Homo sapiens: one gene and its partners. The protein of the gene in region 3 purifies or fractionates together with the protein of the main gene of each other region. This does not show direct contact. Each region holds a gene or a part of one and is shown on either strand. Other genes may lie near its edges. The genes, in order: MTA1, CHD4, DNMT1 and EHMT2.

Region 1 (7,823 bases), on a different chromosome or scaffold from region 3:
GGCACTCCATGGGGAAGAAACAGGCCCTGTTCCCTCCCTGCTCACCACTTCACCCAGCTCAGCTGGCACAAAAATACTGCCACCACACCTTCACCCTGCCTAGCCCAACCTGGCAGGGCCTCGGAGTAGCCTGCCAGCTAAAATACGGGTTGCCCAGATAACTGTGAATGTCAGATAAGAATCTTCTGGGACAAGTATGTCCCATGCCATATTTGGGACATACTTACACTAATAAATTTCTGTTTATCTGAAACTCAAATTTGCCTGGGCGTCCTGTACTTTTCTTAACTAAATTTGGTGCCTCTACACACAAGGTCCCTGGGGTGGGGGGGCACAGGAGCAAGCCCCTTCCCAGGCTGGGTCCCTGCCGGCATCTCCCACAGGCCAGGACTGGCCACCCAGATGGAGCCCGTGCCAGGCAGCCGGCGACAGACGGACAAAGGCTGCTCAGGAGACACTGCACACCTTCCTCTTTCTTGTCTGGGGGCTCAAGAATCCAGACGCCCACCTCCCCGAGCGAGCACCAAGACAGGAAGCCAACCTGCAATGCCCAGCCCACTGCGACCACAGGGCTCTGCCGGGGTCCTGCCGGAACCCAGGGTTCCGGTCCAGAAGCCAGGGATAAATGCCGCTTCTCCTATAGGGACAGTCAGAGTAGAGAGGGGGAGGCCTACAGTCTCACCTGCAGGGAGAGGAAGTCCTCGGGGCGGGCACGTGGGGGGCCTGACAGCTCCGAGCACACCCGGCCACAGTGACCACGGACTGCACACGCAGAAGCAGTCTGGATCCCACGCGTGGCTGTGCTGCCAGCAGACAGCACCCAACCTCCCATGCTCCTCATCACAGGAAAAGAGACCAGCAGCATCTCTGCCAGGCATGGTGGGGCCCCTCCGCCACAGCCTAGGAGTCCAGGCCACCCACCCTCACAGCACTGGAGTGCGTGGGTCAGTGAGGCCCTGGGACGGGCCTGCGGGCACAGGGGGACAGAGGGTTCGGGGAGGGCGGCGCAGCCCCACGAAGGGCTCCTCCCAAGCCTGTGTGGGGCCCAGGGGAGCTGCACCTCCGGGATGGGACAAGGCAGGGTCCTGGCTTTCATCAGCCACAGCACAGCTGCCACAGGGCACAAAAGGACGGCTGAGAGACGAGGTCCTCACCCACACCATGGGGAAACCGAGGCATGGGAAGGTTGGAGGGGGGGCAGCCAGGCTGGCGCCAAGATCACAGGCAGGCAGGCCTGAAGGCCGAGCAATGCAGCCACTAGGAAGGCATGAGTTGGGGTCGGGGTGTCCCCAGCCCTAGAGCCCAAAGCTGCCACCACTCCCCACCCCCAACATGGGTGGGGGCAGGGAGAGCTCTTCTTGGGACCAATCCCAAAACCATGCGCAGTGGGCCCGGCTGGAGCCCAGGCAGCAGGCATCCTCTCTGCCAGGGTGAGAAACTGGGCCCTCATGTCAGGCTGGAAGGGGGGTCTCCAGGTGGGGAGAAAGAACAGGAAGGAACAGGCCCCTCCCTCGAGGGACCCCGCACCCAGGCTGCTCCCTGAGCGTGGGGTGGGCTCAGCGCACCTGGGTCCACACAGGGACCTGGCAAAGCTGTATGAGGCTGTGGGAGGGGCTGCCGCTGGATGGGGTACAGGCCCACCGCCCCTCTGAGAGGACAGGGGAGGCCCAGAGCTGCTGATGCGGACTGACCGCCCATCTCACAGACGGGATGTAGGGGGCTCCCACCGTCCCCAAGGTCACAGGACTGGCCGGCCAGACCACACGGCGTCCAAGGCAGCAGAAGCCACGCTCGAGAGACACAGAGTGTTCTGGGCACTCGGGGTCAGGGGCATGGGGATCAAGCCAGAGCGGGAGTGACCCCAGCTCCCTCCAGCAGCGCAGGCTGCAGGTGGGAAAGGTAATGAGCACCTGCCCGAGAGGGTCACAGGCAGGGAGGGGTCTCAGAGTCCTGGGGAGGGAGGCGCTGATGGAATGATGGAATGCACACGACCCCCCACCTTCCTGTGAAAGACCCCACGGAGTCCCAGGCACACGAAGGAGGGCAAGGCTCAAAGCTGCAGGCCCGGGGGGCCCGAGCAACAGGAGGCTGGGCCCACGGAGGAAGCCCCTGCCCAGGAGGCCCTCCGGCCTCTCCCCAACCCTTGCAAAGCGCCTCCCGAATGGGCTGAGGTGAGCGAGAGGCAGGGAAAAGTTTGGGGGGACTTAGAGGCGTGCTCGGGATGCTCGCTCCCTGCTGAAGACCCCCTGAGGGATCCCTGCTGGGGGAAGCCCCGGGGCCAGGCTGCAGGAGGGCTCTAGGGAGGAACGTGGCCCCTCACCGGGGCTCCCCATCCCCAGAGGGGATGCACCGGAGTCCCAGCACAGGGCCGCGGGCCGGGGGAGACCCCACAGCCCCAAAACTCCTGCTCCCAGACCGGCAGCCGGCGCCTCCCAAGGCCACGTGCTCCCGCTGGGGGCTCCCGGCCCCGGACCCCCGGATGTCCCGCAGGCCCCGCGCCCCCCCGCCACCCCCGCGGCCGCCCCCTCGGCCCCAACAGGTGGGCCGCCCCCCACCCCCGGGCCGCCGAGCCCCGCCCGCCCCCGATGGGGCCGACCCGCGGGGCCATTTTGGGTTGGGGTGAGCACGGCGGGGGGCGGTTCGGGAAGGAGCCGGGGGCCGCGAGGGCGGGCGGGGGGCGCGGGGCCTGCGGGGCAGAGGGGCGGGGGAGGCGGCAGCGGCGGCGGGTGGGGGCTGCGGGCGGGTCGGGGCCGGGCATAAAGGCGGTGCGGCCTTACCTCCGACCCTGTACATGTTGGCGGCCATGTCCGGGCCGGCGGCGGCGGAGGGGCCCGGGGCGGGCGCGGCGCTCGGCGCGGGCGGCCGGGAAAATGGAGGCGCGATGGCGGGGGCGGGGGGCGCCGCAGGCGTTTAAAGGGGCCGCGCTGCTGCCGCCGCCGCCGCCGCCGCCGCCGCCGAGGCCGCCGAGGCCGCGCAGGGACGGGAGGGCCGCGGCGCGGGCGGGAGAGGAAGAGGAGGAGCGGCCGCGGGCGGCGGGGAGGGGCCTCGGGCGCCGCCGCCCACCGCACGGGCCGTTACCGACCCCGCGCCGCCCGCGGCCCGCGCGCCCCTTCCCGGACAGTTCCTCTCGGCGCCCCCGAGTCCTCCCCGCGCGCCGCTTCCCGGGTGGGCCCTTCCACCAGAACCCCCTGGTAGATCCTCCCCTGGTGCCCTGGGGGTAGAGGGGAGATCCTCCACAAGGGCCATTTCCCTGGTGATCCCTCCCTGTGCCCCACAGGTGAGTCCTGCCGTAGCTCTCCAGGGGTTCCTCCTGATGCTGGGGTCCTCCGGCATTCCTCCCTGAGCCCCCCAAGGGCCCTGAAGCTCAGCGGCCCAGCCCTGGCCTCGGGGTCCCCACCCCACACCTCCCTTCCAGGCCTAACCTTTGCCCCCGACACCAGGCAGGGCGTGTCCTTGGCCTTCGCCGCCCAGCCCGCGTGGCATCTCTGGACAGGTGGTCGTGCGCGCCTTGGTGTGGGCAGGCTCCGTAGCCGGCAAAGCCTCCCTGAACCGTGACCTGGTGAGAAGGCCGCAGAGGAGGTGCCTGTGCCCAGAGGCCACCTCCAAAGACCCCACCTGAGGCTGGAACCCAGCGCCTGCTGACCCCGCCAGCCCCAACAGGGCTGGAGTCCAGGAGCGGCCGTGCTCTTTCCGCAGTGAGGCAGCTGCCTTCTCTTCCCACCACCTGTCAGGATGCCTTCCCGTGTGTGCTTGTGCACAGGTCTAAGGAGAGGAGAGTCCAGTGAGTGACCCAGACGCCCCAGCCAGGAAGAGCATGAGGTGCGAAGGGGGCTTCCCAGATGGAGAGAAACAGATGGTCCCAGAGTGGCTTGGAGACAGGTGCAACATCAGTGTTGGGGGAGGTGAGCAAAAGGAGCTGTCTCGGGGTTCCAGGCTGCTGATGTGAGCAGCACCGTGGGTCTCTGTCCTGCCTGCTCAGATGCTGGAGGGAGCTGACATCTACTTGGGACATCCCTCTCTGTAGGACATGGAGCGGAGCGTTCAGGGCTATCAGGAGGGAGCCCCGTGGCCACGGTGCAAGATCTAGGCAGGCGGGACAGACATGGTCAGGATGCTGGGGACACAGCATGGGGAATCCAGCACACAGGACACCATCCAGGTGGGTAGGAAACAGCATGTGCTGGGAGGAAAGCCAGGTGGGGGTCCCAAGGAGAGCGGTGGCCACAATGTCATGGCTGCAGAGCAGACCAGTAAGGAAAGCCCCACCAGGGTTAGCACAGGGCCAGGAACCCGAGCTGCAGGGCGGTGCTGTCTCTGGGGAGAGAGGGCTATGGGTCCCAGGACACATCCTGCGGGCTGGGCTGCAGGGAACAGGAGCTGGCTTGCTGGTGATTGGGAGGGAAGAGCAGCCAGCCAGCGGCCAGGTGCAGGAGAGGGGCAATGACAGACAGGCAGCGTCTCTCCAGAAGGAAGGTGGGGCTGCTGGCCTCCCCTGTCCTACAGCCCCAGCCTACCTCTGTCTCCTCAGCAGGAAAGCAAAGCTGCAGCCTGAGATCTCCTTCCACCAACTCCTGGCATGGCCAGAAAGTTAGCCAGAAACACCAGAAAGTGCCAGGCAGCTAGGAAGCATGGGGAGAGCCCCCTGAAGCTGCGTGTGTAGTGCCTGCTTCCGCTGCCATCCCAGAAATGGACGAGCTTCACCCTGAGAACCCAGCCACACCACTGGGACACATCCTGACAGTGACATGCACACTCTTCCCTGGCCCCAGCCTGGAGAGGAGCCTCCTGAAGACACCAGCCTTTGCTCCTTCTCCCAGTGGGAGTGGAGAGAACTGACTGCTGGAGTGGAGACAGTCAAGGCTGTCCTTCTGAGGGAGCACAGCACAGGGTCTGGTGTCCCAGGGAGGCAATCTGAAATTCAAGCCAGGCCTCCCCAGCGGAGAGGACACACCCCTCACCATGCAGAGTGACGTTTAGTAAACTCTCAAAAGAGAGCACAGAGCCCCACTCCTCCAGCCGACCCATACTCTGCCTCCCCACTCCAGACCAGTGAACAAGGTGGATTGCCCTTAAGCCAGCTCAGAGGCAAAGTCCAAAGACCTCAGGTGAGTCAAACAATAAAAACAAAGAATTAAGAAGAATCCAGCTGGGTGCGGTGGCTCACGCCTGTAATCCCAGCACTTTGGGAGGCTGAGGCGGGAGGATCACGAGCAGGAGGTCGAGACCATCCTGGCTAACACGGTGAAACCCCGTCTCTACTAAAAATAGAAAAAATTAGCTGGGCGTGGTGGCGGGCGCCTGTAGTCCCAGCTACTCCGGAGGCTGAGGCAGAAGAATGGCGTGAACCCAGGAAGCGGAGCTTGCAGTGAGCCGAGATCATGCCACTGCACTCCAGCCTGGGCGACAGAGCGAGACTCCGTCTCCAAAAAAAAAAAAAAAAAAAAAATCCATCCACTCCATCCACTTAGTAGCAGAGCGAATAGACATTCAGGAAAGAGCTTTCACGTCAGAAAGCACTACAGAAGTAGTGGCATATCCCCGGAGGCTGAGGTGGGAGCATTGCTGAGAGGTGGCACGTGACCACATCCATGTCATTCAACAACAGAAAAACAAGTCATCGAGGGTGTGAGGGGCCGGTGAGAAACCCAGTATGGAAGAAAACACAACTGGGCTGAGCGTGGTGGCTCACGCCTGTAATCCCAGCACTTTGGGAGGCCAAGGCAGGAGGATCACCTGAGGTCAGGAGTTCGAGACCAGCCTGGTCAACATAGTGAAACCTCATCTCTACTAAAAATACAAAAAAATTAACTGGGTGTGGTAGCGCGTGCCTGTAGTCCCAGCTACTCCGGAGGCTGAGGCAGGAGAATTGCATGAACCCAGGAGCCGAGACCACACCACTGCACTCCAGCCTGGGGGCGGCACAGTGAGACTCCGTCTCAAAGAAACAAAAATAAAAAATAAATAAATAAATAAATAAATAAATAAGAAAACGCAACCAAAGAAACAGAAGAGGACTCCACAGGACTTCTTTCAGAGCTTCATAGCAGCATGAATTCAACAATCAGGAATTCAAATGCTTGACGACAAAACAGCAGGATGGGAGGAAGAGTTAAGAGCCAAGCAAACCGGAAGCACCAAAATCGCACCGTGGCTGGATCAAGTCATAAACAGCAAAGGGCAGAATATCAAGTTACTTGGAGATGAAAGGCTTGAGATAATTTCAGAGCAAGACAAAGTGATTAACACAATAATTTACTCATTGATTATTTGTTAAACATCTACTTCAAGCTACAGGCCACTCTAGGCCTTGGAGGGTAAGGAAACAGCACCTTTGCCCTCAGAGGGTTTGCAATCTAGCAGGGAGGGGAACATAATAAAGTGTATAAAACCAGGGCTCTGGCTCTGAAGTTCCAGCACTTTGGGCAGGTCACTTGAACCCAGGAGTTTGAGACCAGCCTGGGCAACATAGTGAAAACCCATCTCTACTGAAAAATATAAAAATTAGCGGGGCGTGGTGGTGCATGCCTGTAGTCCCTGCTACTTGAGAGGCTGAGGCAGGAGGATAGCTTAGGCCTGAGAGGCATAGTTCGCAGTGAGCCGAGATAGCACCTCTGCACTGCGGCGTGGGTGGCAGAGCAAGACCCTGTCTAACAACAACAACAAAAACTGATCTTAAGTCCAGCCAGTAAAGATGTAAATCAAAACAAAGACTTTCAGTGGGTCAAATACTGGCGGTGAGCCTTGATCTTCTGGTAAGAAATGCCCTGCCAGGGGATATGGAAATGTCAGTGCCAGTTCCTCACCATTCACAGGCAGAAGTCAGCCGGTGCCGCCTCAGCCGAACCGTGCTTTGCTGCTGTAAACCAAACACACTCATCTCTTGATGTTTTTGTAATTTCTAAAAATAATCGTAGAAGACTTTTTTTTTTTTTTTTTTGGAGACAGGGTCTCACTCTGTCACCCAGGCTCAAGTGCAGTGGGCCTATCTCGGCTCACTGCAGCCTCGACTTCCTGAGCTCAAGCGATCCTCCCACCTCAGCCTCCCAAGTAGCTGGGACTACAGGAGAGCACCACCACGCCCGGCTGATTTTTGTATCTTCAGTATGGATGGAGCTTCCCTTTGTTGCCCAGGCTGTTCTCCAACTCCTGAGCTCAAGCGATCTGCCTGCCTTGGCTTCCCAAAGTGCCGGGATTACAGGCCTGAGCCACGGCGCCCGGCCATCGTAAGGAGACTTTTAAACTTGAGGTGAAGAAGCATTCATCTGCTTTTAGCAATTTTTTTCTTTAAATATTTAAAAGTCTATAAGTAGCAACTCGACACGTATTTCTGTATTTCCATTACATCCTTTTATCTCCCCATATACATTTAGAAATATCTGGGATAACCTTTAGGTAATGTTAACAGCTGTTATTCCAGGGAGGACACTGGGCGCGTTTTTAAAGCTGTATTCGTTGCTGTATTAATAGCAAGCGGTGTTTCTGCAAAGCCAAGGAAGGCGTTTCTCCAGCGGGGCCGCGTCGGGCATTGTCTGGTGCGCCGGGGAAGGCCGCGAACTACATCTCCCAGGCGCCCCGCGCCCCGTTCCGCGCCCCGCGCCCCCGCCCGCGCGGCTCCTGCTGTGGTGCCGGAGCGTCCTCGGCTCGGTCCGGAGCCAGCCGGAGTCACAATTCGAATCGGGCGTGGGAAGCCCGGGGGACCACGCGGCCAACCCTGGGCGGACCTGCGCGCCGGAGACCGCGTCCCCGGGAGCCCCCAAACGCTACCCCGCGCGGCCGCCCGTGGCGCTGCGGAGGCCTGCGGGTGGGGAGGCGCAGTGGCGGCC
Region 2 (7,019 bases), on a different chromosome or scaffold from region 3:
TACAATACCAATGTTAATTTTCTAGTTTTGATCATTGTACTGCAGTTACGTAAGTTATTATTAAGAGAAGCTAGCTAGTTGAACAGTATACATGAACTCTCTCTGCTGTTTTGCAACTTTTTTCTAAGTCTAAAATTAAAATAAAAAGTTTTTTTTTTTTAAACAAGGAGTAGTGATACTGAGCACAGTGGCTTATGCCTATAATCTCAATACTTTGGGAGGCCAAGGCAGGAGGATTGCTTGAGCCCAGAACTTTGTGATCAGCCTGGGCAACATGGCAAGACCCCATCTCTACAAAAAAATTTTTTTAGTTAGCTAGGTACAGTGGATCAAGCCTACAGCCCCAGCTAGTTGGGAGGCTGAAGCAGCAGGATCACTTGAGCCTGGGGGTGTGTCCAGGCTGTAGTAAGCCATGATTGTGCCACTGCTCTCCAGCCTCGGCAACAGAGTGAGACCCTATCTCGAATAAACAAAACAAAACAGGCTGGGCGTGGTGGCTCGTGCCTGTAATCCCAGCACTTTGGGAGGCCGAGGTGGGCGGATCATGAGGTCAGGAGATCGAGACCATCTTGGCCAACATGGTGAAACCACATCTCTACTAAAAATACAAAAATTAGCTGGGCGTGGTGGCACACGCCTGTTGTCCCAGCTACTTGGGAGGCTGAGGCAGGAGAACTGCTTGAACCCGGGAGGCGGAGGTTGCAGTGAGCCAAGATCGTGCCGCTGCACTCCAGCCTGGGCGACAGAGCAAGACTCCATCTCAAAAAAAAAAAAAAAAAAAAAAAAAAAAACCTAGTAGCGTCTACTGAGGCAGACAAGTCTGCTAGTAACTTGCTATTTGAGCTTGAACAAGTCCTGACCCTTTGCTTGCCCTCGAGATACAATGCTTTCTTCTTTCTAGCAGAAAGAACAAATACCCCAAAAGAAAAAATCTCCTAGGAATAGTCCAATACATTCGTCCAATTGAGACATTCAAAAGCTTTACTCCATCTCAAATGACAAAGTCCCAAAAGAACTACACAGAAAAGGAGATGCACAAGAAGTTACAGTCCAAAGATATAAGCAAATGAGGATTCCTGAAACTAAACAACTCCTTCTCTCTCACCATTGAAGCGGTCAATGGCCTCTTGCCGCATGTTCCCAGTGATTCCACCATCGATGCGTTCGTATTTATAACCTTCATGTTCCAAGAAATCCTCTAGCAGGTCTAGCATCTTGGTCATCTGCAAAAGAAGCACGGTTTAATTATGGAAGAGTCAGATGGTAATCCCTTTCCTTAGGTCACTAAGGGTTGTCTATGACTGTTCCCTAAAGCTCCCAGTCCACATGATACCTGGGAAAAGATGAGTACACGATGCCCACCCTCCTTAAGGTTCTTGAGCATTTTCTGCAGCAGCAATAATTTCCCAGATGCTCTGATTAGGGCACTGCCATCATACATGCCATTAGGCATCTTAGGAGCTTCCTGAGAACAAATGCAAAGAAAAAAGTATTAAAAGAAAGCCCACATGGAGAAGACCCAACCCAGGGAGGAACAGGAGATGGCACTACATACCATTGCAGCCACAGGGAAGAGGTATGGATGGTTGCAGCACTTCTTAAGATCCATCACCACATTCAGCAGAGACACCTGGTTGCCACCACCTCGGGCATTGAGTGCTTCAAAATTTCGAGTGAGGATGTACTTGTAGTATTTCCTACATGGGCAAGGTAGAAAGACAGGTTAGACTTGAGAGCCTTTCAATGACTAATAATGCAGTGCCAACAACTGAGATCTTTCTTCCAACACATCCCACTTTGGAACTAAGGACACCTAACGCACAAGCACTACCACCACCACCATTTTAAATAAGGAAAGGTATAACCTAAAATAAGTAAGAACTATGCGCTCCAGCGCCCTAGCATCAGGTTTCTTCAGGCCTTGCTTGCTCCTGTCACCAGATGCCTTGAAGCTGAGTGGGGGAGGAATAGGAAACACTCTGCAGACTGGCAGATGTCTAAATGGAGTCTGCTTCTGTCCCTCCCAACTCACTTCTGCATAGGGCTCAGCTCCACACGCACAATTAGTTCTGTCTTGGAGGGCATGTTCTTGAACACATCGGCTTTGAGCCGCCGCAACATGTGCGGCCCCAGCATGTCATGCAGTTTTTTTATCTGGTCCTCCTTGGCAATGTCAGCAAACTCCTCCAAAAAACCTTCCAAATTGCTTCAGAAAGAAAAAGGAAAAAAGTTATTGGAGAAGGAGAAAGGAAGAAAGAAAAGTGATACAGGAAATGGGCAACAGGAAGAATGAGAGGCACAATTATGAGCCGATTACAGATAAACACATACTTACTGGAACCTCTCGGGGGTGAGAAAGTTGAGCAGATGAAACAACTCTTCCAGATTGTTTTGTAATGGTGTCCCAGTCAGCAACAGCTTGTGCTGGAGTGAGTAACCATTCAATACCCGGAAGAACTGGTGAAGCAGATGGAGAAAGGTGAAATCCAATGAAAACAGAGCTCTAGCAAATCTCTACAAAATTTCAAGTTTTTCACTGCCCAATAGTTAAGCATCCCACTCCTCACATTCTTTTTAAAGGCCTGGCCACCAAGGGCTGTCACATACAAGGAAGGAAGGCAGAGACAATTTTCCCCTCTCCTCTCCATCTACAAGTTTTCCCCTTAATGAATTGGTAGTACTAGAAAAAACCCAAAGTGGGGGCTCCAACATCCCTCCCTCAGCCCTCACCTTAGACTGATTGTTCTTCAGCCGATGGGCTTCATCCACGATGAGGCAGGCCCAATCAATAGAGCCCAAAATAGCCATGTCAATGGTGATCAATTCATAGGATGTCAGCAGCACATGGAATTTCACAGATGCCTCTTTCTGCACATGAAGGCAACTTGGTCACTACTAGTCAGTTCCTCTGTGTAAGCACAACCAGGAGACTGATGGAATGTTTTCCTCCTCCCAGGGTTACCCTTTTGCCTCACCAGGGACCAGATCACAAGGAGGTAAACTAAGCCAGAAGCCACAACTCTTTCTCTAGGGTGGCTTCCCTCCCCTGAGATACCTTCATGCGGGAGGCCTTCTTGCCACCACGAATGGCATTGTCTTCAAAGGAGAACTCATTCTCTCGGATGATGGCACGGCTGTCCTTGTCACCCACATAGGTTACGACATACATGTCTGGAGCCCACATTTCAAACTCCCGCTCCCAGTTGATGATGGTAGAAAGAGGGGCGCTCACTAGGAAGGGGCCTTTGGAATGACCCTTTGAGAAAAAAGAGGAGAGTCAGGACTGAGGGCCCCAGCACACTGCAACCCCAGCGAACACCCACCACCCTGCTGCCCCCTCAAGCTGAGCCAAGGACTGACACACCTGCGCTGCTGCTCCTGCTCTCACCTTCCTCTATACAAGTGCCCAGCCCACTCCTTTCCAAAAACCCAAGGTCCCACCATAACTACAAGTCTTACCTCTCCCATTAAGTCTTTATATACTTTTTTTCTGAGACGGAGTTTCACTCTTGTTGCCCAGGCTGGAGTGCAATGGCGCAATCTCAGCTCACTGCAACCTCCACCTCCCGGGTTCAAGCGATTCTCCTGCCTCAGCCTCCCAAGTAGCTGGGATTACAGGCGTGCACCACCACATCCGGCTAATTTTGTATTTTTAGTAGAGACGGGGTTTCGCCATGTTGGTCAGGCTGGTCTCGAACTCCTGACCTCAGGTGATCCACCAACCTCGGGCTTCCAAAGTGCTGGGATTACAGGTATGAGCCACTGCGTCCAGCCAAGCCTTTCCATACTAATTCTACTCATAATTCTACTTCCCTCAACACACAATCATTCCCCTAGAACTGATACTCTATGGATCCACTGCTAATCCTACCCAGGGCTCCATGCCCTCAAATCTTCCGCTGTGTACATGTGTTTATCCACTATCACATTTATCTACTATCTACTAAACACATGTGTACATGTGTTTATCTATTATCCACAGTGTTCTTGAAGGTCAGAGACCAATTTTTTTATTCCCTTATCTCTCTACTCAGTGTAAGTTAAGGCTTCAAACACAAAACACCCACACAAAAAACTATCCACCCCAGATTTCCTTACCTCCTTGTAAAGGGAATACAGGAAGACTGCTGTCTGTACAGTTTTCCCAAGGCCCATCTCATCAGCCAAGATGGTGTCAGTGCCCTGAGCCCAGGAGAAGCGCAACCAATTCAGGCCCTCCATTTGATAGGGGTGCAGGGTTCCACCTGTAGCATCCAGGTACTCTGGCTGTCGCTCATACTTCACTGTTGGCTGAAGGATGAAACAGAGAAGTCAAGAGCTGGCAAGGAACTCCCCTCCTCCCCTAATAGAGCAGCTGCTTCCTCCTCACTAGTCTTCACGGATCCTCTTGGGGAAGAGCTCCGGAAAATTCGGAGGGAAGAGATCCCCTATGATTACTGCAATTTCATGTTCAGTTTAGGGTCCTCCAGGAAACAGGGCTTAACCAGACCTGATTTTGATCCTACAGATCACTGAGGAAAAGCACGTCACAGACTCCCTACCAATACAATAATTCTACTAGTCAGGATCCACCAGGTAAATAATCGTTATGTCCCTCTTAGATTCATCTTTTTAACTTTAATCACCCTCAAATTACACTGTACAAACAAAACCCAGAGGAACTGAGCCTGAATTAAGCCAGATTCCTATGTAAGTGCATAAAAGCTAGGCTATGTGGCCCCTCCCCCCAGACAACACTTCTTCAATCATTCAAAATATACCTCCTTTTTTTTTTTCTGATGACAAAAGAAGAAAGTAATCCTAGTGCTTTCTGATATATAGAGATGTGGAGAAGTGGGGAAGCCGACTTTGTGAAGTAATCTCAGCTACAAAGTTACTATCTGCATTTCATTACTTAAGAGTACCATCATTAGACTGCAGCAAAGATACATTGTCCTACCCAACAAACTACAGTCCCTTCCACCCCCACTCACATCAACTGTTGGCGTTTCTGGAGGCCTCTCCAACTTCCGAAGCTTCACCTTCTTGAGCTTCTTGCCTGGTCGGCCTTCCTCACCCCTCATTAACTCCCTAAAGAAGAAAGACATCACACAGCTGCCCAAAATCCTTTTCTATAGAAGAAACAACTTGGCCAGGCACAGTGGCTCACACCTGTAATCCCAGCATTTTGGGAGGCCAGCACTTTGGGAGGCTGAGACGGGCGGATCACCTGAGGTCAGGAGATCGAGACCAGCCTGGTCAACATGGTGAAACCCCGTCTCTACTAAAAATACAAAAATTAGCTGGGCATGGTGGCAGACGCCTGTAATCTCAGCTACTCGGGAGACTGAGGCAGGAGAATTGCTTGAACCCAGGAGGCGGAGGCTGCAGCGAGCCAAGATCGCACCATTGCACTCCAGCCTGGGGGACAAGAGCAAGACTTCGTCTCAAAAAAAAAAAAAAAAAAAATCAGCTAGGTGTGGTGGCGTATGCAAATAATCCCAGCTACTCAGGAGGCTAAGGCAGGAGAATCGTTTGAACCAGGAAGTCGGAGGTTGCAGTGAGTCAAGATCACGCCACTGCACTACAGCTTGGTGACAGAGCAAGACTCCATCTCAAAAAAAAAAAAAAAGAAACAACTCTATGCCTCACCCAAAATCACTCACCTGTGATTCCAATAGCTCTGCTTGAACAGGTCGTAATCCTGGATCTCCACATCCTCACTCTCCCAAGAAGCCTGATCGTAAGGTAAGTCCCGCCACTTGATCAAGTAGTGGACGTGGCCCTTCTTGTCCACACTGCAAGTCCAGGAGAGAAAACCCTCAGAGCCAGAAAAGGCAACCCTCCTCACTTCCTCTCAAAAACTGGCAATACCGTTTGTTTCACACCAGACCTCTAGGTATGCCACAGATCACACGTTTTCAGAGCCTCTACTGTACCAGTCTCTGACCAAAAATTATCTCTAATTTATACTTTCCTAGAGCTCAAACACCAGAATTCAGTCAGTTAATAATTAACATAGAGTGTTGGCCGGGTGCAGTGGCTCACGCCTGTAATCCCAGCACTTTGGGAAGCTGAGGCAGGCAGATCGCTTGAGGCCAGGAGCTCAAGACCAGCCAGGCCAACATGGCGAAACCCGTCTCTACTAAAAAAAAAAAAAAAAATTAGCCAGGCATCAGGCCGGGCGCGGTGGCTCACGCCTATAATCCCAGCACTTTGGGAGGCCAAGGCAGGCGGATCACCTGAGGTCGGGAGTTCAAGACCAGTCTGGCCAGCATGGAGAAACCCCGTCTCTACTAAAAATGCAAAAATTAGCCGGGCATGGTGGCAGGTGCCTGTAATCCCAGCTACTCGGGAAGCTGAAGCAGGAGAATTGCTTGAACCCGGGCGGCGGAGGTTGCAGCAAGCTGAGATTGCGCCACTGCACTCCAGCCTGGGCGACAGAACGAGACTCCATTTCAAAAAAAAAAATTAGGCAGGCGTGGTGGCACACGCCTGTAATCCCAGCTACTCTGGAGGCTGAGGCAGAGAATCACTTGAGCCTGAGAGGCGGAGGTTGCAGTGAGCTTAGATCATACCACTGCACTCCAGGCTGGGCCACAGAGCAAGACTCTGTCTCAAAAAATATAATAAATAAATAAATAAATAGGCCGAGTGCGGCGGCTCACGCCTGTAATCCCAGCACTTTGGAAGGAGGAGGTGAGCGGATCACAAGGTCAGGCGATCAAGACCATCCTGGCTAACACAGTGAAATCCCGTCTCTACTAAAAATACAAAAAAAAAAAAATTAGCCAGGCATGGTGGCGATGGCCTGTAGTCCCAGCTACTCGGGAGGCTGAGGCAGGAAAATGGCGTGAACCCAGGAGGCAGAGCTTGCAGTGAGCCAAGATCACGCCACTGCACTCCAGCCTGGGTGACAAGTCTGTCTCAAAAAAAAACAATAATAATAAAATAAATAAATAAAGATAATAACATGAAGTGTCAGGCGCAGTAGCTCACGCCTGTAATCCTAACACTTTGGGAAGCTGAAGCAGACAGAT
Region 3 (7,019 bases):
TGCTTTGCTGGACCCATGTCTTACAACAGCTGCTCTGGGTCATGCGGGCCCTGATTCCCCACCAGCGCCGCTCACATATGAGCACCTGCTGAATGCCAGGCCCTGCTCCAGGCAAAGAGCTAAGTGATTAGATGTAGGTGTCACTAGGCAGGGACTTCCTGACTTGCTGTGTGGTTAGGAAAGACCATTCTGTAGGGCCGGGCACGGTGGCTCACGCCTGTAATCCCAGCACTTTGGAAGGCTGAGGTGGGCGGATCATGAGGTCAGGAGATGGAGACCATCCTGGCTAACACAGTGAAACCCCGCCTCTACTAAAAATACAAAAAATTAGCCAGGCGTGGTGGTGGGCGCCTGTAGTCCCAGCTACTCAGGAGGCTGAGGCAGAAGAATGGCGTGAACCCGGGAGGTGAAGCTTGCAGTGAGCCAAGATCATGCCACTGCACTCCAGCCTGGGCAACAGAGCAAAACTCTGTCTCAAAAAAAAAAAAAAAAGACTGCTCTGTAGAAGAGACACTTAGCACCCTACAAACACAGTGGTAATATAGACTGTATATTATATATACTGTATCACTTGGACTCAAGGTGCTACAAGGCCAGGCAAGACGCAGTGGCTCATGCCTGTAATCCCAGCACCTTGGGAGGCCAAGGCAGGAGGATCACTTGAGGTCAGGAGTTTGAGACCAGCCTGGGCTACACTGAGAGATCCCATCTCTACAAAAAAAATGTAAAAATTAGCTGGGTGTGGTTAGTGTGCACCTGTGGTACCAGCTACTTGGGAGGCTGAGGTGGGAGGATCGCTTGAGCCTGGGAGGTTGAGGCTGCAGTGAGTTATGATGGTACCACTGCAATCCAGCCTGTTCAGCCTGGGCAACAGAACAAGACCCTGTCTCAAAAGAAAAAAAAAAAAAAAAAAAGATGCTTTGACATCAGGATTTCCAGGAGCACAAGGAACCTCTTCCAGGCAAAAGTCATTCTACCCTTGTAGCAACTGGGGTCCAAGGAGAGCCTTAAGTCAGGAGGGCTACAGAAACTGGTACTTCCAGCCAGAGGCACACACGCTGTGGTAATAGCGTTACACTTGACTTCTCAGTCACGCCGCTGAGAAAACTGGAAGGACATGGCTTCTACCTCGACCAAGCCAGCCAGTCCCCTGATCCCGAGGTTGCCTGGGGTGTGAAGGACAAGGTTCAACTGATTGCGGAGACCAAGGTGTCCTTGCAGAATGGGTCTGCTTTCTTTCAACCCCTCATATGAACTGGGATATTTAGCCTGGCAAAGAGAATAGAGAAACCTTCAAAACCCCTAGAATGTTTCATCCAGTAGAAACTGGATTTAACCTGCCTGGCCCCAGAGTGGCAGGTGGGATCCCAGGCAGGCAGTGAGGAGCTGGCGGGAGGGTAACTTTAGCGACATCCCTTCCCTGGTAAAACTGTGATGACACCGATCACACCTGCTGAAGCCAGGAGGGTCGCAGACAGCCGTGAAGGACGGAGCAGAGGACTCAGAATGCCGGCTTAGTGCCCAGCCTGAGACCCTATGATTCCTTCCTAGTGCTTCCCTCAGAGATGAACCCTCTGCAGAGGGGAGATAAGATATATATAAACAGCTGGCCAGGCACGGTGGCTCATGCCTGTAATCCCAGCACTTTGGGAGGCCGAGGCGGGCGGATCACCTGAGGTCAGGAGTTCGAGACCAGCCTGACCAACATGAAGAAACTTCGTCTTTACTAAAAATCCAGAATCAGCCAGGCATGGTGGCACATGCCTATAATCCCAGCTACTCAGGAGGCTGAGGCAGGAGAATCGCTTGAACCCGGGAGGTGGAGGCTGCGGTGAGCCAAGGTCACGTCATTGCACTCCAGCCTGGACAACAAGAGTGAAACTCCGTCTCAAAAAAAAAAAAAAAAAAAAAGATATATATAAACAACCACAGAGGAATAAGGCAAATACAGCTCACGCCTGCGGGATTCCCAAGAGAAAGGGTATAACAGCCTCAGGAAGAAGTTGACAGCTCTGTGTGAACCGGGCACAGGAAGCTGCTCAAACAGGGGCACCATTGAGAAGTGGCTGGTTCTGGAAACACACAAGAAACAAACGTGAGACTGGCCACATACAGGGAGGGAAAGGCACCTCCAGAGAGGTGGCTGGGGACAGTCGGAGGGAGGGCAAAAGCATCACACTTATCCATCTTGTTCCATAGTTAACAAACACCAAAGCAGTCAAGGGGAAGTAGAACCAATGACATCAGAGCCGTGTTAAGAAAACTAACCCAGCAGAGGTATCTAGTATAGATTGGATAGGAAGAAATTATAAAATGTTAGATTACTCTAACACCTCTACGCCAGAAATGCTCGTCTGAAATACAGCAGACCATGGCTGGGCGCAGTGGCTCATGCCTGTAATCTCTACACTCGGGAAGCCAGGACAGGAAGATCACTTGAGCCCAGGAATTCGAGACTAGCCTGGGCAACAGAGCGAGACCCTGTCTCTACAAGAAAGAATAATTAGCTGGCTGTGGTAGCATGCACCTATAGTCTTAGCTACTCGGGAGGCAGAGGCGGGAGGATCACTAGAGCTCAGGAATTTGTGACCAGCCTGGGCAATACAGTGAGACCCTGTCTCTACGAGAAAACAGTAATTAGCTGGGTATGACAGCACGCACCTGTACTCCTAGCTGCTCAGGAGGCCGAGGCGGAAGGATCACTAGAGCCCAGGAATTTGAGACCAGCCTGGGCAACACAGCGAGAACCTGTCTCTACAAAAAATAGTAATTAGCTGGGTGTGGTGGCATGCACCTATAGTCTTAGCTACTCAGGAGGCTGAGGCGGGAGGATCACTAGAGCCCAGGAATTCAAGACCAGCCTGAGCAACACAGCGAGACCCTGTCTCTACAAAAAATAGTAATTAGTAATTAGCTGGGTGTGCTAGCATGTGCCTATAGGCCTAGCTACTCGGGAAGCCAAAGCGGGAGGATCAATAGAGCTCAGGAATTCAAGACCAGCCTGGGCAACACAGCAGAGACCCTGCCTAAACAAAAAATAGTAATTAGCTTGGTGTGGCAGCATGCACCTGTGGTCCTAGCTACTCAGGAGACTGAGGCAGGAGGATCACTAGAGCCCAGTGAGCTATAATTGTGCCGCTGCATTCCAGCCTGGGTGACACAGCAAGACCTTGTCTCTAAAAATAAAATATAGTGGACCATGCAAGACAAGTTACAAGTCTCTGTCAAACCAGCTTCTTCAGGCCGGCTGCATGGCAGCTGGAGCAGGGCTGCCCAAGAAGGCATCCGCAGTAGGCAAAAGAGTAGACCCACTGGGCACAGTGGCTCATGCCTGTAATCCCAGCACTTTGGGAGGCTGAAGCGGGTAGATCACCTGAGCTCAGGAGTTCAAGACCAGCCTGGGAAACATGGCAAAACCCCATCTCTACTAAAAATACAAAAATTAACCGGGCTTGGTGGCTCACGCCTGTAATCCCAGCTACTCAAGAGGCTGAGGCACAAGAATCATTTGAACCCAGGAAGCAGAAGTTGCAGTGAGCCGAGATCATGCCACTGCACTCCAGCCTGGGTGACAGAGCGAGACTCCATCTCAAAAAGAGTGGACCCACCGAAAAATGTTCATGCCCTAATCCCTGGAACCTGTGAATATATTACTTTACGTGGCCAAAGCGATTTTGCAGATGTAACTAAGAATACAGACCTTGAGATGGGGAGATTATCCTGGATTATCTGGGGTGGGCCCAATCTAATCACTTCAGCCCTTAAGAACACAGAACCTTTCTAGCTGCAGAGAGCGGGCAACGTTGGAGGACGGGTCAGAGAGAGATGCAACCCGCAAATGCTGACTTTAAAGGTAGAGGAAGGGGGCATGAGCCGAGGGATGAGACCGCCTCCAGAAGCGGGCAACGACCCTCAGTTTAGAACCAGTGAAGAAAATGGGACCTGAGTCTTACAACTACCACCTTCTGCCAACACCCCAAAATAGGAAACAGATTCTCCCCTGGAGCCCCCAGAAAGGAATGCAGCCTGCTTACACCTTGATTTTCATCCGGTGAAACCCACATCAGATTTCTGACCTGCATAAGGTAATAAATGTATGTCCTTTAAGCCGGCAAGTTTGAGGCAAGACCCTCCACCTGCAAAAAGATTATGAATCGCTGAAGACTCAGATGATTTTTTTTTTTTTTTTGAGACGGAGTCTCGCTCTGTTGCCCAGGCTGGAGTTCAGTGGCATGATCTCGGCTCACTGCAACCTCCGCCTCCCAAGTTCAAGCAATTTTCCTGCCTCAGCCTCCCATGGAGCTGGGACTATAGGCGTGTGCCACCATGCCTGGCTAATTTTTTTTGTATTTTTAGTAGAGACGGGGTTTCACCGTGTTAGCCAGGATGGTCTCGATCTCCTGACCTCGTGATCTGCCCACCTTGGCCTCCCAAAGTGCTGGGATTACAGGCGTGAGCCACCACGCCCAGCTGATTTTTTTTTTTTTTTGAGACAGAGTCTCACTCCTTCACCCAGGCTGGAGTGCAGTGGCACAATCATGGCAAACTGCAGCCTCGACCTCATGGGTTCAAGTGATCCTCCCACCTCTGCCTCCCGAGTAGCTGGGACCCCAGGTGCATGCCACCACTTTTGGCTTTATTTTTTTTTTTGAGATGGGGGGGGTCTTCCTATGTTGCCCAGACTAGTCTTGAACTCCTTGGCTCAAGCGATCCTCCTGCCTTGGCCTCCCAAACTGCTGGGATTACAGGCATGAGCCACTGCACACGGCCTAGTCTAATAACTTTTACACATACTAGGAAACCAAAATGTGTGTGTGACTCACTTTCTTGCTAGATTCACTTTACTGCAGTGGTCTGGAACCAAACCCACAGCATCCCCACTGTACACACAGTACCACGTAATAACCAGTGATGAAGGGCTTTGGACAGGTGCTGCTCTCAACATATCTGTACTGATAAGCTCAGTCTTCCTAACACCCCTGTCGAGCAGGCAGCCCCACCCCCTTTTTATAGATGAAACACCAAGGCACCAAGAAGTTCAATAACTTAGCCATACGGCTGGCAAGTAGGGCGGCATTTGAAACCCAGCAGTCTGTACCCCTAGAATTCTACCACAGGGGAGCAAAACAAAAGAGGTAAGTCAATTTTGCCTTATTCAGTATGTACTCAGTAGTAGCCAAGGAACTGGAGTTAAGGAGTTCAAGACCTAGCTTAATCCCATCACAGAATGACTAGCAGTAAGAAAGCTGTGGTAGTTACGAAAGCTAATCAGTTGTGCAAAGGAGTCTGCTAGCATCAGTGTTAATCCAGGCTGTACAGGGGAAGAGCTGGCATGCAAGCATTTGAGTCTACTGTGCTCCAAGCTGCAGATACAGTGAATACGGCAGACACGCTCTGGTAACAGACCCTGAAATAATCACTAATTTCAGTGTTATAATGGCACCATGCGGGATACACCGACAAAATTCAACACTCTTTATTGTGGAGAAGCAAGCCTAGCTGTCTGAGAGCAGGCTTAAGAATGAATTAAAAGGCCAGGCACGGTGGCTCATGCCTGTAATCCCAACACTTTGCGGGGCTGAGGCAGGCGAATCACTTGAGTCCAGGAGTTCAACACCAGCCTGGCCAACACGGTAAACCCCGGTTTCTACTAAAAATAAGAAAAAGTTAGCCGGGCGTGGTGGCACATGCCTGTAATCCCAGCTACTCAGGAGGCTAAGGCAGGAGAATCACTTGAACCCGGGAGGGGGAGGTTGCAGTGAGCCAAGTTCGCACCACTGCACTCCAGCCTGGGCGACAGCACAAGACTCTGTCTCAAAAATAAAATAAAATAAAATAAAATAAAATAAAATAAAATAAAATAAAATAAAATAAAAACAATGAACCGGCTGGACACCATCATACCTGTAATCCCAGCATTTTGGGAGGCTAAGATAAGTGGATCACTTGAGATCAAGAGTTTGAAACCAGCCTGGTCAACATGGCAAAACCCAGTCTCTAATAAAAATACAAAAATTACCTGGGCTTGGTGGCGGGCGCCTGTAATCCCAGCTACTTGGGACACTGAAGTAGGAGAATTGCTTGAACTCGGGAGGTGGAGGTTGCAGTGAGCCGAGATCACGGCCACTGCACTCCAGCCTGGGCGACAGAGCAAGGCTCAGCCTCGAGGGGGAAAAAGAAAAATTAGCTGGGCGTGGTGGTGCACACCTGTAATCCCAGCTACTTGGGAAGCTGAGACAGGAGAATTGCTTAAACCCGGGAAGCGGAGGCTGCAGTGAGCTGAGATCACACCATTGCACTCTAGCCTGGGCCACAGAGCAAGACCCTGCCTCAATTAAAAAAAAAAAAAAATCTAAGTTTCAAGTACTGTTGGATACCATGTTTATTTTTCATTTAATGAAATATTTTCAAAATGTAAAAAAAAAAAAAAAAGTCTGTGGAGTGAGTCATATAAACTACAATTTCAATGTCTACCACATGGTCAAAAGCAGTCCTCCAAAACTCCAATGCCTACAGTGAAGCAATCTGAGTGTAAAGAAATGTGGAACCCAGGGTCAGTGGTGGATTGTAAGGCTCACCTAATGGTATTCCAATTCAGCCAAACAAAATATTTGCACAGGGCCAACAGAGCCCCTGAGCCAGTGGCCTACTGGCAACCCCTGTTGAAGGGAAAGGCTTTGGCAAGCAGCAGACCTTAGCAGGAATTCCTGCTTCCTGGCAGTTAACTCCTGCAGCATCCACTTTTAAGAACTCTTGAGGAATAATGGCCGGGCCCTGTGGCTCACGCCTGTAATCTCAGCCCTTTGGGAGGCCAACGCAGAGGATTGCTTCAGTCCAGGAGTTCAAGACCAGCCTGGGCAACAAAGCAAGACCCTCATCTCTAAAAAAAAAAATTTTTTTTTTTTCTGAGACAGAGTTTCGCTCCTGTTGCCCAGGCTGGAGTGCAACGGTGCAATCTCGGCTCCTGGGTTCAAGCGATTATCCTGCCTCAGCCTCCCGAGTAGCTGCGATTACAGGCA
Region 4 (7,019 bases), on a different chromosome or scaffold from region 3:
TCCCCAGTCCGGATGTCTCGGGAACTGAAGAAGGCGATGCGTGGAAATCGCAGGTCTTGGTGCAGCATGAAGACCCGGACGGGAATGATGTTGGGGTCACACAGGTGGTTGATGAAGCGGCTGATGTTGCCATAGTAACGGGCATCTATGCAGTACACCTCTCCATCCTGGGGCAGGGGGATGGCACTCTTCACATCTCCCCCGACCCTGCTTGCCCTCCCCACCCACTGACTCCCCAGTCCCTCCTCCCCAGGTTTCCATTTGCTGACTTCCCAGAGGCTCCTGAAAGCCAGCCCTGGGGAGCAGCAGGGTAAGGAGGGTCTCCTGCTCACCTTGTTGTCTAAGTCGAAGAGGTAAGAATCATCCTCTCTCACATCAGCCTCAGCATCAGAGATCAGCTCCCCGACATACCTGTGGGACAGGAATCCATGGTTCTGAAGGTGAGTGTGGGCTATTAGGAGGTGGCTCCAGGCCCCATCTCTCTTCACAAGCCTGTGGAATCTGGAATGGGCAGGGCTGGCAGGTGTGGGGAAGGGAAGGCCTGGAGCAGCAGTGGTGGGCAAGTGAAAGGGCAGCATTCCAGCCTTGACAGAGGAAGCCTTCAGTCAGCACAGAGACAGACAACAAGCTCTGTGGTTAAGGGGATTAATGTGTAGGGGCAGTTGGCCTGGGTGGGGAAGTTCGGGTTTGGACACAGAGAGGTTTGTGTTCCAGGAGCCACCCGGCAGGAATGGGCGATATGGAACAGGAGAGGGGCCAGGACTGCAGGAAGAGCCAGAGGTACAGGAGTGGCAAGGAACTCAAGGCATGATTCGGGGCAAGAGCACCCACACATATCTGGACACCAGAGGGAGGAGAGGAGCCAGCTATCTAAGGAGGGTGAGCAGACATGGGAGATTCAGACACACGGAGAGGACGTGGGTGGGAAGTGACTGTCAAGAGACAGCTTCAGCAGAGTGGGAAGGGCAAAGGCCGATTTTGGCAGGGACAGGCAGTGAGTGGATGGTGGGGAAACTGAGGCCCAGCAGGAAGGGGCTGCTTGCCAGAGAAGTTGAGAGATGACATGATGGAAAGAAACTGGATGGTCTGTTGAACAGGCAAGTATGGTTAGAGGACTATCTTTTTTAAAGGCCAAAGAATGGTCAGGCACGGTGGCTCACGCCTGTAATCCCAGCACTTTGGGAGGCCGAGGTGGGCGGATCATCTGAGGTCAGGAGTTGGAGACCAGCCTGGCTAACATGGTGAAACTCCGTTTCTACTAAAAATACAAAAAATTAGCCGGGTGTGGTGGTGCGCACCTGTAATCCCAGCTACTTGGGAGGCTGAGGCAGGAGAATCGCTTGAACCTGGGAGGTGGAGACTGCAGTGAGCCAAGATTGTGCCATTGCACTCCAGCTTGGGCAACAAGAGTGAAACTCCGTCTCAAAAAATAAATTAAAAAAAAAAAAAAAAAAGAGCCAAAGGAGACTAAAGTAAGATTGAGGGTTGTGGGATGGCAGCCAAGAGAAAGGGGGAGATTACAGATGCTGGGCAGAGAAAGAACTGATGGAGAGGGACAGGCCCCTGAGGAGGTGGACAGATAGGTAGCTGTTATCACCTCCACTCTACAGACAAGAAAAATAAGGCTCAAAGAGGTTAAGTAACTTGGCCAAGAACATCCAGAAGCAGAGAGGGGCTCAAACCCAAGTCTGTTTGTCTCCCAAACTGGCACTTTCTCCAGCTAGGAAGGGCGAGGAGGGGGTGGAGGGGAAGGTAGAGGGTGGAGGTGGAGGGGAGGGAAGACAAGCTCTGTGGTCTGGGCAGAGTGGAGGCAGGTGCCATTCTCAGCTGGGGGGATGGGGGTCAGAGGCGGCTGGCTGCTCAGCTGCAGGAATAGGGGTCAGAGGAGGCTGGCTGGAGAGTGGCCAGATGGAGACATGTGACTCATCAGGGCAGATGGCTGAGAGGGAGGCCTGGCAGTCAGCAGTGGCCATGTATCCCCTTCCCACCAGGTGTTAAGGTGCTCCCGGTGACTTACTCGCAGATGAAGGTCCCCTGTGGGATGGTCTGCAGGGCGCGGACCCCCCAGCCCATCTTGGCTGTTCGGTAGAGCTGTAGCCGCACCCTGGGGGTAGGAGAGATGGCGCTGTTGGGTGGAGGCCCTGGAAAAGCCCCAGGGGCAGGGAGGAAAGGGTGAGGTGGGGAGAGGGTGGGCTGTGGAGCAGGGCCTCACTTGATGCCACTCTGTACGACCCGGTTCTTGCAGTTTCTCCAGCATGAGCACGCCTGGTTACACTCGAAAATCAGCGGAGGCTCAATCTTGTTAAATTCCTGGAGCAATCGCCCATCCTAGGGTGCGGAGGGGAGGATAGTGGTTTCTCTGTGGGGCCCACCTCAGCTGCCCACCCAGGAACCCCAAGACTCTACAGAGACAGGGAAGTTGGGGTTGGGGAGGTCACACAGGCTCTGAGATCCGAGAGCACGAAATGCAGGAGCATCATCCCTGGTTTGCATAGACCTGGGCACACGCCCATCGCTGTCCCAGCCACATCCCAGGATTCCCAGGCCTTGCCCAGTCCTCTCAGTCACTTCCCCCACAGGGTAGGAGGTGAGGGACATGGTCCCAGGGAGCTGGTTTATTGGAGGCTGGCTCCTCTGAAGGAGGGGCCGGGTGTCTGTGGCCAAGGCAAGGGGCACGCACCTTGTCATACCAGCACCGGATGCTGAGCTGGCCGCACAGGCAGTTGGAGCTAGAGCAGTCGTCCACACACGTGCAGTGCTGGGGCGAGGAGGCAGAGGTCAGCTCAACCCCATGATCGGTCTGGGCCCCTCTACTCTTGATGCCCCCTGACCCCCTAACCACTGTCCTTTCTTTGGGGTCCATGTGTTACAACAGTGGGTGGTGATGGTCCTAGGGTGACGGGTAATCAGTATGGTGGTGTCCCCAGGGCTACTGGGAGCTCATATGATACCTTGCTGTGACCTAGGAAAAGGATCCCTCCCCTGGTGGGGATGCGACCCCACACCAGGGCTCCCTTTCAGCCAACCCTTCCTTGGCCAGGTGCCTTTGCTGGTTTGAAGCTTGTCCAACTGTACTTGGCAGCTCTCGGTGTCCTTTTGGGGAGGCCCCGGGCCCCCTACTCACCTGCAGGTGGGTGATGTTGCGATCGATGTTCATGGTGGACGTCTCGCAGTTCTCTGAGATGTACTTGTAATCCTCAGGGCAGGGCTCCCCATCCACACCGTTGACACAGGGAATGGGCACGTTCTCATAGCCCCGAGCCACGTCCCTGCAGAAGACGGGAAGAAGGGGCTGGGAAGCTGGAAAAGGGGGTGAGGAGCTACTCCAGGTATAAGGAAGAGAGTTGGGGAGGTTCCTGGGGCTGGGGGCAGGGGAGTAAGGTTGCCAGGTAAGATGCAGGACAGCGAGTTAACATAGAATTTTAGATAAACAAGAAATAGCTTTTTAGTATGTCCCAAAAATTACACAGGACATTCTCACACTAAAAAAGTATGCATCTGTGCATCTGAAATTCCAGTTTAACTGGGTGTCTTCTATTTTTATTTGCTGTATCTGGCAACCCTAGTGGGGAGGGGGCCTGTGGGTGGTTCTGGGGATTCAGTGGTGCATGGGGAGGGGTTGGGGAATGTTGTGAGGATGCAATGGAGCCTGGGGAGGGTATGGGTGGGGAGGAGGTGGTCTTGGGTGCAGAGAGGGGCCCAGGGCTCACCGGCAGATGATCTTCTCTGTGCGGATGGCCCGATTTCCCACCCCAAGTCGGAGCTTGCGGTTGAGTTGAAGCGCAAACCACACGTCGGAGCGCTCGGGAGTCAGGTCCCATGCTGTGTCCCCCTCTTTGTTCCGCAGCTCAGGGTTGGCCCCACGTGACAGGAATAACCTGAAGAGGGGACAGGATGCCCAATGCAGGGTCTGAGGCTGCAAGAAGTGGGGGCAGGGGCATCAAGGGCGGGGCAGGGGCTCACAGCACGCAGTCATGGTAGCTCTCCCGAGCTGCGATGTGCAGGGGGGTGTCCCCATGGTAGTTGACAGCATGGAGGTCACAGCGCGCATTCAGAAGGACTTCGGCGATGGCGGCGCTGCCCGTGAAGGAGGCCCAGTGCAGGCAGATGTTCTCCTCCTGTGGAGGTAGGAGGGGAACAGATGAGGTGCAGGCAGCTGGGCCCTTGAATCCAGCCTCCACCTTGCTCAGGGGCCTGGGGCTGCCCTACCTCAACCAAACGCTCACTCACGTTGTCAGTGAGGGTGACGTCGGCGCCCCGCGTCAGTAGCATGCGGATCACCTCGATGTGCTTGTGCTCTGCAGCCCAGATGATGGGCGTCCACCCCCCACTGTCCTGTGGGTGGGAAGGGAGTGAGGGTGGGGGCAGCTGGCCCTGCTCACCAAAGCAGCAAATGGTCAAGATTGGCTGTGTGTGTGAATCCCAGCTCCACCATTCACAAGCTGTGGGACCCTGGGTAAGTCACTTAACGTCTCTGGGTCGCAGTTTCTTCATCTAAAAAATGGGACTAGTAGGGTCGGGCGCGGTGGCTCATGCCTGTAATCCCAGCACTTTGGGAGGCCGAGGCGGGCGGATCACGAGGTCAGGAGATGGAGGCCATTGTGGCCAACACGGTGAAACCCTGTCTCTACTAAAAAATAGAAAAAATTAGCTGGGCGTGGTGGCAGGCGCCTGTAGTCCCAGCTACTAGGGAGGCTGAGGCAGAATGGCGTGAACCCGGGAGGCGGAGCTTGCAGTGAGCCAAGATCGTGCCACTGCACTCCAGCCTGGGCGACAGAGCAAGACTCCGTCTCAAAAAACAAACAAACAAAAATGGGACTAGTAGCGTCTACCATCTGATGCCAGAGAGAAAATAAAGTAATTGTTCTCTTTCCAAAAAATACAGCCAGGAGCTGGTCATGGAGGTGCATGCCTGTAGTCCCAGCTACTCATGTGACTGAGATGGGAGGGTTGCTTGAGCCCAGGATTTCGAGGCTGCAGAGAGCTATGACTGTCTGTGAACTGCTACTGTACTTCAGCCTGGGTGACATAGCAAGACCCTGTCTCTTAAAAGAAAAAACGAACAAAAATTTCCTAAGTCTGCCCACTCAAAAGTCCTAGAAGCAGCGACAACCCAATAACAATAAACACTCCTAGGAACATAGATTGTATTCTCTAAAAAATGCTTCTGGCCGGGCGCTGTGGCTCACGAGGTCAGGAGTTCAAGATCAGCCTGGCCAATATGGTGAAACCCCGTCTCTACTAAAAATACAAAAATTAGCCGGGCATGGTGGTGGGCGCCTGTAATCCCAGCTACTCGGGAGGCTGAGGCAGGAGAATGGCGTGAACCTGGGAGGCGGAGCTTGCAGTAAGCTGTGATCACGCCATTGCACTCCAGCCTGGGCAACAGAGTGAGACTCCGTCTCAAAAAAAAAAAAAAAAGTTTCCCATAAAGGAAGCAGAGTTTCTTAGAGAAATGGTGGATTCTGAGTTGGGGGCAGGAAATGTGCTGAAAGGTCAGGAGGCTCTCAAAGGCCACTGGGCCACTGGGTCATGTCACAGCCACAGAGGCCTCTTAAAGGGGCTTCTTCTGGACAATGATGGAATAATTCAAAGACTGAGAAGAATGCCAATAAATGACTAAAACACATCCAATGTATGACAACCCAAGAGTTAATAAAAAGCCTCACTGGACACTTTCAGAGATTAAGACAGGAACTGATTATTCTGAAACTTGATAAAGAGAAAGAAACGAGAAAGAAAAGAATGAAGAGAAATACAAATGAGGAAGAAGAAAGCAATGAGGACAGACACGAGCAGTGTGAGGTCAGATGTAGGAAAGGCGGCCCAAAGCCTGAGGCCAAGCCAAGGAACCCAGGCACCAGGGACCCAGAGGGGCTGGGCTGGGTGGGCCGCTGACCTGGGCGTTGACGTCCACCTGTCCTGTGCTCAGCAGCAGGCTGACCATCTCCAAGTTCCCGATTTTGGCTGCGTGGTGGAGGCAGGTGGAACCGTCCTCCTCCTGAGGGAGACACGGGCAAATGAGCCTTTGGGCTGGCACCCCAAACCTGGTCCCTGACTCCGGGGGCCACGCCCTGCTGCCTGCGCGCACACCTTGCTATAGACACAGCCACCACGCTGCACCATGTAACGGGCTACCTCCAGGTGGTTGTTCACCACGGCCTCCATCAGTGGCGTCCGCTGCTGTTTGTCCACTGCATTTATGTTGGCTCCAGCCTGTGAGGGGGCAGGAGGGCTGGCACCAGGGAGGCATGGGGCAGGGGAGGGGCCTAAGGGCCTGGTGAATGAGGCATGGGGCCGGGCCCGTGCTGACCTGCAGCAGCACATGGCAGATCTCCACGGAGCCCTTCTGGGCGGCTGCATGCAGGGGCGTGCGCTTGCTCTGCTGGTCGCTCTGGAAGTTGGGGTCCAGGTTGTCCACTGCGGGGAGAGCCCGCCACACCGGGAGAGGGAGGGACAAGTGGTAAGCAAGCTAGGGGGCAGGTGGCACTTCTTTCAGGAAGGCTTCTCAGGGCCCCAAGCTGGATCAGGGCCCCTCCTGGCATTCTCCGAGCTTGCCTCCACCACAGCATTTATCAGAATAAGGAGTCAAAGGCATCAGCTCTGCCTGAATTCAAACCCTGCCTTGCTTCTCAGTACCACTGTGCACTGTGCAAGGTCCCTAACCTCTCTGTGCAAGCCAAGGCTAACAGGTATAAGCACTCAGAACAGGACCCAGCACCTATGAGTCACCACATCCCCATCGTTATGGGTTACATGTGTCTTTTCCCCACCACACTAAGTCCTTCAGGGCAAGGACTGTGTCCTTCACGACTGTACTCCTGGCCCTGTACCCAGTGCCTGGTATATACATGAAGCTTGGTCAAGGTCTGCTGAAGGAATGGGTGGCACTCACACAGCATCAGGATCACCTTCTGCAGCTCGCCCTGCTTCACGGACAGGTACAACTGCCGAGGGTGGAAACGGAGCTTCTTCCGCCTGCCAAGGGAGCACGGGAGCGGGGAGAGAAGGGGAGCTCC

The links.
Region 1: the proteins of DNMT1 (region 3) and MTA1 purify together in Homo sapiens (affinity purification with western blotting; 4 studies listed by BioGRID and IntAct, with this or other methods). This does not show direct contact.
Region 2: the proteins of DNMT1 (region 3) and CHD4 purify together in Homo sapiens (affinity purification with western blotting; 2 studies listed by BioGRID, with this or other methods). This does not show direct contact.
Region 4: the proteins of DNMT1 (region 3) and EHMT2 purify together in Homo sapiens (affinity purification with western blotting; 3 studies listed by BioGRID, with this or other methods). This does not show direct contact.

The regions. Positions count from the first base shown.
Region 1 is NC_000014.9:105,415,018-105,422,840, reverse strand, and holds the start of MTA1 (metastasis-associated protein MTA1), read right to left. Parts: upstream 3,015-7,823; 5' UTR 2,806-3,014; coding exon 2,778-2,805; intron 894-2,777; exon of another isoform or gene 879-893; coding exon of another isoform or gene 683-878; intron 1-682. UniProt on the Homo sapiens protein: Transcriptional coregulator which can act as both a transcriptional corepressor and coactivator. Acts as a component of the histone deacetylase NuRD complex which participates in the remodeling of chromatin.
Region 2 is NC_000012.12:6,590,361-6,597,379, forward strand, and holds part of CHD4 (chromodomain-helicase-DNA-binding protein 4), read right to left. Parts: intron 5,778-7,019; coding exon 5,646-5,777; intron 5,071-5,645; coding exon 4,974-5,070; intron 4,291-4,973; coding exon 4,099-4,290; intron 3,257-4,098; coding exon 3,056-3,256; intron 2,869-3,055; coding exon 2,731-2,868; intron 2,458-2,730; coding exon 2,336-2,457; intron 2,207-2,335; coding exon 2,033-2,206; intron 1,698-2,032; coding exon 1,556-1,697; intron 1,466-1,555; coding exon 1,334-1,465; intron 1,224-1,333; coding exon 1,106-1,223; intron 1-1,105. UniProt on the Homo sapiens protein: ATP-dependent chromatin-remodeling factor that binds and distorts nucleosomal DNA. Acts as a component of the histone deacetylase NuRD complex which participates in the remodeling of chromatin.
Region 3 is NC_000019.10:10,184,949-10,191,967, forward strand, and holds part of DNMT1 (DNA (cytosine-5)-methyltransferase 1), read right to left. Parts: intron 1-7,019. UniProt on the Homo sapiens protein: Methylates CpG residues. Preferentially methylates hemimethylated DNA. Associates with DNA replication sites in S phase maintaining the methylation pattern in the newly synthesized strand, that is essential for epigenetic inheritance.
Region 4 is NC_000006.12:31,880,682-31,887,700, forward strand, and holds part of EHMT2 (histone-lysine N-methyltransferase EHMT2), read right to left. Parts: intron 6,979-7,019; coding exon 6,896-6,978; intron 6,421-6,895; coding exon 6,314-6,420; intron 6,217-6,313; coding exon 6,094-6,216; intron 6,002-6,093; coding exon 5,900-6,001; intron 4,375-5,899; coding exon of another isoform or gene 4,336-4,374; coding exon 4,231-4,335; coding exon of another isoform or gene 4,210-4,230; intron 4,119-4,209; coding exon 3,964-4,118; intron 3,879-3,963; coding exon 3,711-3,878; intron 3,524-3,710; exon of another isoform or gene 3,270-3,523; coding exon 3,125-3,269; exon of another isoform or gene 2,759-3,124; coding exon 2,681-2,758; exon of another isoform or gene 2,329-2,680; coding exon 2,213-2,328; exon of another isoform or gene 2,105-2,212; coding exon 2,018-2,104; exon of another isoform or gene 1,992-2,017; intron 880-1,991; exon of another isoform or gene 715-879; intron 441-714; exon of another isoform or gene 412-440; coding exon 333-411; intron 168-332; coding exon 1-167. UniProt on the Homo sapiens protein: Histone methyltransferase that specifically mono- and dimethylates 'Lys-9' of histone H3 (H3K9me1 and H3K9me2, respectively) in euchromatin.